2 separate regions of the Homo sapiens genome follow, and region 2 is linked to region 1. Evidence: fine-mapped expression QTL. A gene starts in region 1. The other region holds a variant in brackets. All regions are shown on one strand. Distances are between the middles of the regions. Region 1 holds the start of TAMM41 (TAM41 mitochondrial translocator assembly and maintenance homolog). Region 2 overlaps TAMM41 (TAM41 mitochondrial translocator assembly and maintenance homolog).

Evidence for each region. PIP is the estimated chance that this variant, and not a neighbour inherited with it, causes the effect.
Region 2: its variant is fine-mapped to the expression of TAMM41 in lung (TOPMed, PIP above 0.99). The same link has a PIP of 0.9 or more in whole blood.

The regions. Positions count from the first base shown.
Region 1 is chr3:11,844,687-11,848,947 of GRCh38, reverse strand. It overlaps TAMM41 (TAM41 mitochondrial translocator assembly and maintenance homolog), which reads left to right and starts at 2,063. Exons shown (of 8, transcript NM_001284401.2): 1 at 2,063-2,446. The coding sequence starts at 2,312.
Region 2 is chr3:11,806,745-11,811,262 of GRCh38, reverse strand. TAMM41 (TAM41 mitochondrial translocator assembly and maintenance homolog) reads left to right here. Exons shown (of 8, transcript NM_001284401.2): 6 at 1,581-1,746; 7 at 3,368-3,430. Among named protein-coding and RNA genes, the nearest start is that of TAMM41, 38 kb to the left of the region's middle. The variant C/A (reference allele first, on the strand shown) is at 2,370.

The DNA of each region.
Region 1 (4,261 bases):
CACCCTGCAAGCCGCTGTAGAGGACACTTAAACATGGTGGTAAAGACCTTGGCCTTTAGAGGTAGGTAGCCCTAGGTTCAAACCCCGACTTCACCACTTTCCTGTGTGACTTTGGAACATTTACTGCTCCTCTTAGGACCTCTGTTTCCTCGTATGAAAAATATCATCATCTTAGAGAACCTGCCTCATAGGATCTCTGGAGTGATGAAAAGAAACAAGTATAAAAAGCCTGGGTGCAGTGGCTCACGCCTGTAATTCCAGCACTTTGGGAGGCTGAGGTGGGCAAATCACTAGAGGTCAGGATTTCGAGACCAGCCTGGCCAACACAGTGAAACCCCATCTCTACTAAAAATACAACAATTAGCCAGGCATGCTTGCTTGAACCCAGGAGGCAGAGGTCACAGTGAGCTGAGATCGTGCCACTGCACTCCAGCCTGGGCAACAGAGCAAGACTCGGTCTCAAAAAAAAAACAAAAACAGAAAAGCCCCAAAGAAGTCTAAAAAGTGCCTGGGCATACTAAGTGCTTAATAATGACACCTATTATTAGTATTATTGTCACCGAGTCCTTTCAATTCTTTCTTGGTTGAATTTTCCCATCTATCTTCTACCTGATAAACTCCTACCCAGCTTCCAGGCCTGGCTCAAAATGCCATCATTGTGAAACCTCTTCTGGTCCCTTTCCCCAACACCCAGAACTGACTGACGTTCCCATTGGAGGGACATTACATTCCGGCACTGTGCTGGGTACCTGGCTGCATTACCCAAATTCTACTCTGATTTGCAGTTCTGTCTCCTCTCCTCTACAGACCCCTAGCTCCTGCAGGGCAGCAGGCAGCTCAGATCTCTTCATCTCAGTGCAGGCCCAGAGTGTGAGTGCAAGTAATCATTTTTCCAATTGATTTAATCCCATCCCTGCTCCTAAGACCTTGGCCTAGCCGTTTCCAGTTCATGGGGGAACTATGATAACAACTGTCTAATCAGTCCCCCACAATTCAGGCTAACATGTGAATTACATAAGTCCTTGCTCAAAACCCTTCAAGGACAGAGCAGAATTTCCGAAAAAATCCCAGAGTTGGAGCCAGACCTGGGTTTAGCTCTAGTTTTGCCACAGGCTGATGTGATCCTATCACCTGGCTTTACCTCTCTAAGCCTTAGCTTGGCCATCAGTAAAACCAAGGCCCTCCTGCCACAGGGCACTAGAGGGTGCTCAGTGAGAAGTGCATGTGAAAATGTGTCAACATTACCTGAATGTTAGCTATTACTATTTCTATTATTTTTGAGAGGTAGTGTATTTTGGGGAGGAAGGAGAGGGTAGTTGAAAAAGTTTCTGTCCTGGAAGTCAAACCACCTCCTGAATGGTAATCTTCAGCAAGTTTCTCCAGTTATACAAAGAGGAGAGCTGTAAGATTTTTCTACTCCTAGGGTCCTGTTTCCTCCAGAAACTGCATTTGAAGCACCCTTTGTGAGACCATTCCACAAGGCAAGGGGGCAAAAACTGTGATCCACCCTTGAAATTAAATGCAAGTATCAGAGAACGTCTGTGCACTCCCATATCCACCCTTGTATTTGAAAAGGGCTTTAGCGTGAAGAAGTCTCCGTCAAATCTTGACGGTGGTATTCTCTACATGGCGGGATTGGGCATCATTTTAATTTTGTGTTTTTCCAAATCTTCGAAATCTGCAATTTTGGAACTAGAGCGATGATGGGGGCACAATATTGTGAAGGCACTACATGCTACTACACTGTCCATTTCAGAACGGCTAGTTCCATATTATGTGAGTGTCGCCTCACTTAAAAACCTTCAATACGCTCCCGATTTTATAGTCATTCTTTAAACCGTAGTTTGAAGAGAGAAGTACAGAGGCTATCAAGGCTCAGGGCCCGCGGAGTCGGGTGACGCTCGCCTCCGCCGATTTGTCCAAGTCGCAACCTAGCCGCCAGCCTGTAGGGCACTCCTCCGACCACGAGGGGACAATGCAAAGCCTCGCGTTCCCCACACTAAGGCGAGCACCGCCTCTTGCGTCTTGGAAGCGCCTGTGCGTGCGTGGGGCGTAGCAAGGGACGGAAGCTCTGCCTGTGCGACCGCCGCCCACCCGAGCCTATCTGGGCTGCGTCTTCTCGCCGCTGCTCTTCGTGGCCCAACGCCCCAATCCTTGCGTGTGCTTGCAGTCCCACCCCACACTCAGCCTTGTGTCCCTCGATCCAGTCTCCGACTTCCATTTCCCACCCTAAACCGCCTACCCGGTGTCTGTTCCCCGCCCGGTTGTCCTCGCCCTGCTGCGCTGAGTGTCCCCTGTTAGCCTCGACCCCATGGCGCTGCAGACGCTGCAGAGCTCGTGGGTGACCTTCCGCAAGATCCTGTCTCACTTCCCCGAGGAGCTGAGTCTGGCTTTCGTCTACGGCTCCGGGGTGTACCGCCAGGCAGGGCCGAGTTCAGACCAGAAGGTGAGCCCGGGCAGCCCCACGACGGGGAACTGTCTGTTCTCACGAGTCCCGTTTTGCCCTCGATTCCTTCAGAGTCGGAGAGCTGCCTGTCCGCTCTGCACACTCCACGTGTCCACTAGCAGAGTGAACCATAGGCCTGCCTTCCTAGTATAACGACAGCGCGAGTTGAAGCGACGGTGTTGAAGGATACTTAGGAATCCACGTGGGTCTAGAGCAGGAGAAGCAGTTAGGCAGAAGGAAAAACTGCTGCAGGGGCAAATGGAAGAAAGGAAAAGAAATCGTTATCAGGTTCTTTCAGTGTTTTAGTCGGCTGGACATCGGAATTTTCTGGGGAGCTTTTAAGAAAATCCTAATGCTCGGCTTCCGCCGATGGAGATTCTGATTTAATTGGTTTGGGATGAGGCCTGGGCTTCAGGAATTTAAGAAACGTCCCAGGTGATTCTAATGCGCAGCCAAGTTTGTTGAGAGTCACCTCTATAAATGTAGGAGAAAATGCAAAATGATCTTCTGACTTCAGGAAGTTGGCGGACTGGTTGTAGGGCCAGGGCAGGTGCAGTGAAAGTAACTAACATCAAAAGTTAGTGCGTGACCAGTGTATTTACCCTCGCTCAGCACTTTTAACAACGGTCTGTTTGAGACTAGGCATTGTTACTTTTCAGAGTTGGCTCAGCACAGCCTCAGTAAGGGTACAGTTTTCCTTGTAATTTGCAGAATTCAGTGTGCAGGTTTTAATGGGGCCCCCTGCGTCTGGATACCTGACTGTAGTCTGTCTTCTGATTAACATCCTGCCTGTTCACTTCCTGGTGAGGCCATCTATGCTGTTGCTTGGATTTCCTCTGTTTCCCACTTACACTACTATTTAATATTTTTCTTTAAATTGGCAGCATATGAGAAATTATAGGTTATTATAGGCTAGTTATTTTTCCCGAATTTACCTTAACATAATTACACATTTTTAAAAAACATGTTTATTCCATACCTGCCTCGCCACCAAATCTCAAGTGTCCCCAGTGGTCTGTAGAGTCACACTCTACAGAGCAGGCGTTAGCCTCCTGATGGCCACCTCTTCATTCTTCCATGGAGGTTTTCCTTTGAATAGACCTGGAATTCCCTGCAAGAAAAGGTCCTTCCTTCCCATTCCCTCACTTTTGATTCCTTACATTCAAGTGAACAAGTTGTAGATTCCAACACCTACATCTTTCTCACATCAGTCCCCATCCTTAGCGCCTTAGCTAATATAATTTCATTTCTCCCCTGGAATCTTGCCATGGCTTCAGATCTAATTCCCCCACCCCCTTAGTCCCTCTTCTCTCCAGTCAGCTCTTCTGCAGGAAAATTTTCTAGCATGGCAAACAGCCTCCCTCTCTGATCTCATCTCCCACCGCATAAATGTGTTCTATTTCAGTCATATCTGACGGCAGCTTCCAGAACATGCTGGCTCCCATATCCACAGAGCACTTTCCTCCAACACGGCTCCCTACCCTTCCCTGTGCTTCCCCCAGTGCTTCCAGCAAGTCTGTTTAACTCACGTGTCCTTCAAGACTCAGATTTGTCATCTCTAGGAGAATTTCTCCCTCCTGTGCCCCTGATCTGATCCCTATGCTGAGTGCAGTTAGTACATTTTGCATTCCTCTATCAAGTCAATGTAGTGATAATTTGTTTATTCTCTCCAGTAGACTCTGAGCTCTATACTTCTACCCTAGGGCCTGTCAGAGTTCATTACTTATGTACTCAATAAGTGGTTGGTGAATAGGTAAGAGATAAAATAACTGACTTCCTTTTATATAGTATTTTGTAGAGTTTATCCAGGTGGTG
Region 2 (4,518 bases), 38 kb after region 1:
TAGAGGATGGGGCCTGTGAATTTAGAACCATCCTAGTGATAAATATCAAATATTTAGATAAAAACCTAAATATTTACCCCTCTAGCTTTATGGAGCCATTAAATAATAACATTTTTCTCCTTCTCTTCATAGAGTTTATAGACAAAACTAGAAAATTCAGGTATTTGGTATATACTTTTTTGTTTTTTTTGATACCATCTTGGTCTTGTCACCCAGGCTGTAGTGCAGTGGCACAATCACCACTCATCGTAGCCTCAACTTCCCAGGCTCAAGTGATCCTCCCACCTCAGCCTCCCAAGTAGACAGAACTGTAGGCTTGCACCACCATGTCTGGCTTTTTTTTGTTTTCTTTTTTTTTTTCGTAGAGCCGGATATCTCACTCTTTTGCTAGGGCTGATGTTGAATTTTTGTGCTCAAGCAATTCTCCTGCCTCAGCCTCCCAAACTGTTGGGATTACAGGTGTGAACCTGTGCTCCTGGCCCATTTGGTATGTACTTAATAAATATTTATTCAATTTAAAAAATGGTAGAATGAGTGGATTCTAATTATTAAGAAAGTTCGTCCTATCTGTAAACTCTAAGCCTAAAATGTAATACATTGATCTGATTTTTTCTTACTCTTCTCTTAGTTGAAGTTAAAACCTAAATATTTGTTAAAAGGATACAAGACAGATTCTTCCTTGGGAAATAATGTGATGGGCTGTTGAGGGCAGTGTTACTGGTTCTGCACTTGGCAGGAAATCAATGTTTACAAGATTTTTAAAAATTCATTCCACGAGGCACAGTGTATGAAACTTGGAGTTAGGAAAGCTAGGTCTGGCCTCAGCTCTGTGGCTAACTTTTGATTCAAGGGTTTCTGAGTAAAGTCTGACACATAGTTTTACATGTTTTATTTATATATTTATCTTCAGCACCTTAGTATGTTTTAGAATACTTTGGGAACCGAAGCCGCTGGCATAGTAGCTTTAGGACAACTAAGTTGTATTGATTCAGTTACTCATTTCCTTATTGTTTTTTGAGTACCTACTGTGTGCTGGGGATTAAAAGTAAGTAAGATTAGTTTCTGTCATCAGTGTATTCCTACAGTTTGTGAAATACAGCATACTAAAAGGCCCTACAGGCAGGAGACACAATTCAGATCCCACTTACTCTCATTGGTGATGTGATCAGGGCACGCCAGTCTCCCTGTGTTTGAAATGGGAGGGGTCATCTCAGTGCCTGGATTTGACGCGGCCTCCACGAGTGTCAACTGCAGCACCACTTCCTTTGACTGCTGGATTTAAGACAAATATAAATTTTAAAACCAAAAGTCAGAAATTGATCCTTGAGAGTGGCTTCTATTCTTTTCTCAGGTAGAAATGGAATATTATAGGACAAGAATTGTCCTTTTTGAAGGGACTTAGACTCCTGAACACTTACCCATTCAGTTTCAGAAAAAGAGAGTTTCCTTAGCTTGCTGCCTCGCCAGGGGTGTGGGTGCATATATGTTTGTGTGATTTTTAAAGAGAAGCCCTGAGTTTTGGAGTATTTGTAGGATTTAAAGCACTTCCATAGACGTCGTCTTTTTTTTCCTCCCTTCAGATAGATAAAAGCCCAGAAGGACAGTTCACTCAGCTGATGACATTGCCCAAAACCTTACAGCAACAGATAAATCATATTATGGACCCTCCTGGAAAAAACAGAGATGTGGAAGAAACTTTATTCCAAGTGGCTCATGATCCCGACTGTGGAGATGTGGTGCGACTAGGTACGTTTATGAATTTGATGTTGAGGAAATGCCAGCCATGGGGAAAAGCAGACTTTGTTTGTGATTGGAATGTATTATTTCTTCCTTTTTGTTTAGCGAGATAGAGAGATTGCCTCTCAGAAGAAGAAAGCACTAAAAATTTGAGGGTTTTCTAAATCTGCATTTTTATTTGTTTGAAGTAAGATGGTGAAAATACTTCTGTTTTTAAATTCCTGGATCCTAAATCACTGTCAAAGGGAGAAACAATGTTTCTTTTGGTTCCTAGAGCACAACTTCTAGAATTTATTTAAAAGATGTGTCTGTGTTTTGTGGTGGTCTGAGAAAAGAGATTGGTGGCATTTTTTTGTGCTTTTATAACATCGAGAACACAGCTTTCCTCAATCAACTCCATTTGATGTGTCTCATACATTGTTGAGTACATTCCCTCAGACATGGCCCACGTTCCACAGCATTTTCCCCAGCACTGCCCTGATGTTTATCCAAAACTCTGAACCCAGGCCAGGTGCAGTGGCTCACGCCTGTACTCCCAACACTTTAGGAAGTCCAGGAGGGAGAATCACTTGAGGCCAGGAGTTTGAGACCAGCTTGGGCAACAGAGCAAGACCCTGTCTCTGCAAAAATTA[C/A]AAAAGTAGCTGGGCATGGTGGCACATGCCTATAATCTCAGCTAACTTGGGAGTCTGAGGTGGGAGGATCGCTTGAGCAGTTGGAGGCTGCAATGAGCTAGGATCGCACCACTACACTCCAGGCTTGGTGATAGAGCAGCCCGTATCTCTTAAAAAACAAACAAAAAAAAGAGCCTGAACCTTATCTTCAGAGACTAACTTCCCTTTAAGGTGCTAAAGGTAATTTATGAGATCAGTCAATCAAGAAATATTTATGAAATTGAGAATGAGTCCCTCTGTCAATTGAGTGCATTCTCCTGTTTTCATTCAGTAAATATTTACTGAGCTCCTCCGCGTGCCAGATAGAATTTCCAGTAATGCTTTGCAAAGACCATCGCACTGCAGTGGATGAGCTGCAGCAGGCGCTCCACGCCCACTCTCCTCCTGGGCCTGCACTAGGTTTGCAGAGTGTGTGTTTAGGTCACCAGCTCCCCATCCTGAAGATAGCTCTGTACGAGGCACACTGTTGTTTGTTTGAACATGATCCTGGCAACAGTGTGATCTGGGCCGTCTCTTTGAGGTGAGTGAAACTTGTTCCTCACTGTGGAATCCGTATGTGTGTTTTCAGAATGAAAGTTTTTCTCGTAGATGTAATCATTTGGTTTTTATCTTTTCATGTTATGGAATTGAGAACCAGAAATCTCAAGCAGATTTAAGTCATAAAATGCCCTTTGAGGGTCAGCTAACCCATCCCCTTGTTTTAAGGGGAAGAGGCACAGAGCTGTTCGGTCATCGGCTTGGACTCACACAGCCGGGTGGCGCCACGGCTGGCTGCTCTGGTCTCCTGGCCCTCAATCCCACTGCCCTTTTCATTGTCACTGTGACAGCAGGACAGAGATAGATTTGGTGGTTTGATTGGCTGACTAGAAAGAATATTTAGTTTCAAGTTTTAAAACTGTTAAGATGACTAACATCTGTTTTGGGTTTTTTTGGTCTCCTTTTTGGTTTTTTTCTCGCAGGGCTTTCAGCAATCGTGAGACCGTCTAGTATAAGACAGAGCACGAAAGGCATTTTTACTGCTGGTAAGAGCTTTGGAAATCCGTGTGTAACATACCTGCTGACTGAGTGGCTTCCACACTCTTGGTTACAGTGTAAAGCTTTGTATCTTTTAGGTGCTTGTGAAATGCTGAGCTTTGATGGCCATAAACTGGGATATTGCAGTAAGGTACAAACAGGCATAACAGCAGCAGAACCTGGTGGTCGAACAATGTCAGACCATTGGCAGTGCTGTTGGAAGCTTTACTGCCCTTCTGAATTTTCTGAGACACTTCCTGTGTGCAGGGTTTTTCCCTCATATTGTTTTATTTATCAAAGTTACAGATGCATAGGATTGCAAAAACAGCAGCATCTGTGCTCCCCCTCCTCTTCCCCTTCTCTGAGACAACTGCTTCCATCTGTCTTAGTGGGTTATTTTTGTTGTTACTGCCATTTCTCTAAATGGTAAGTTTTCGTTGCTCCTTCTCTACGTTTCAACTTTAGGTATCATCTATTGACTTCTCTCTATGGGAGGTTAGAAGTCAACTCTGGCACCCACCCTCATCAAATGTACGCACCCTCCCATCCCTCTGTCCTCCTAATATAGTTGTCTGGTGGTTTTGGCTAATTAGTTTTCAGTTTGATGGTATGGTGAGCCACAGAGTACACCTTTCCTTCCCTGCATAATGTTCTTCTCTCATGGAGAGTGTCTTCGCTGTCCCCTCTAGGGGGTCCCCCATTTACTGTATCTCATGTCTTTCACTTGCTTGGTGCACACTCTCATTTTGGTGAAGCACATTTTCCAGTAATTTCCTGAGAAGGGGAACATGGAAGGCACATTTGGAGACCACGTATGTCTGAAAGTCTTTTTTGTCTGTCTTCACCCATAGTTAATACTTAGGCTGGGTATTGATTAGAAATCACTTTCCTTTAAAATTTTGAGATCATTGCTGCATTTATCTTTTACTTCTAGGATTGTTGTCTATGTCTAAAGCCAATCTGATTCTTAATCCTTTGTGTATGTTATTTCTGGAAGCATGTTAGGTCTTTATTTTTCCCCAGTGCTCTGAATTCTCTCAGTGATGTGCTTTGATGTGAGTCTGTTTTTATCTGTTTTATCTGTTTTACCGGGAAT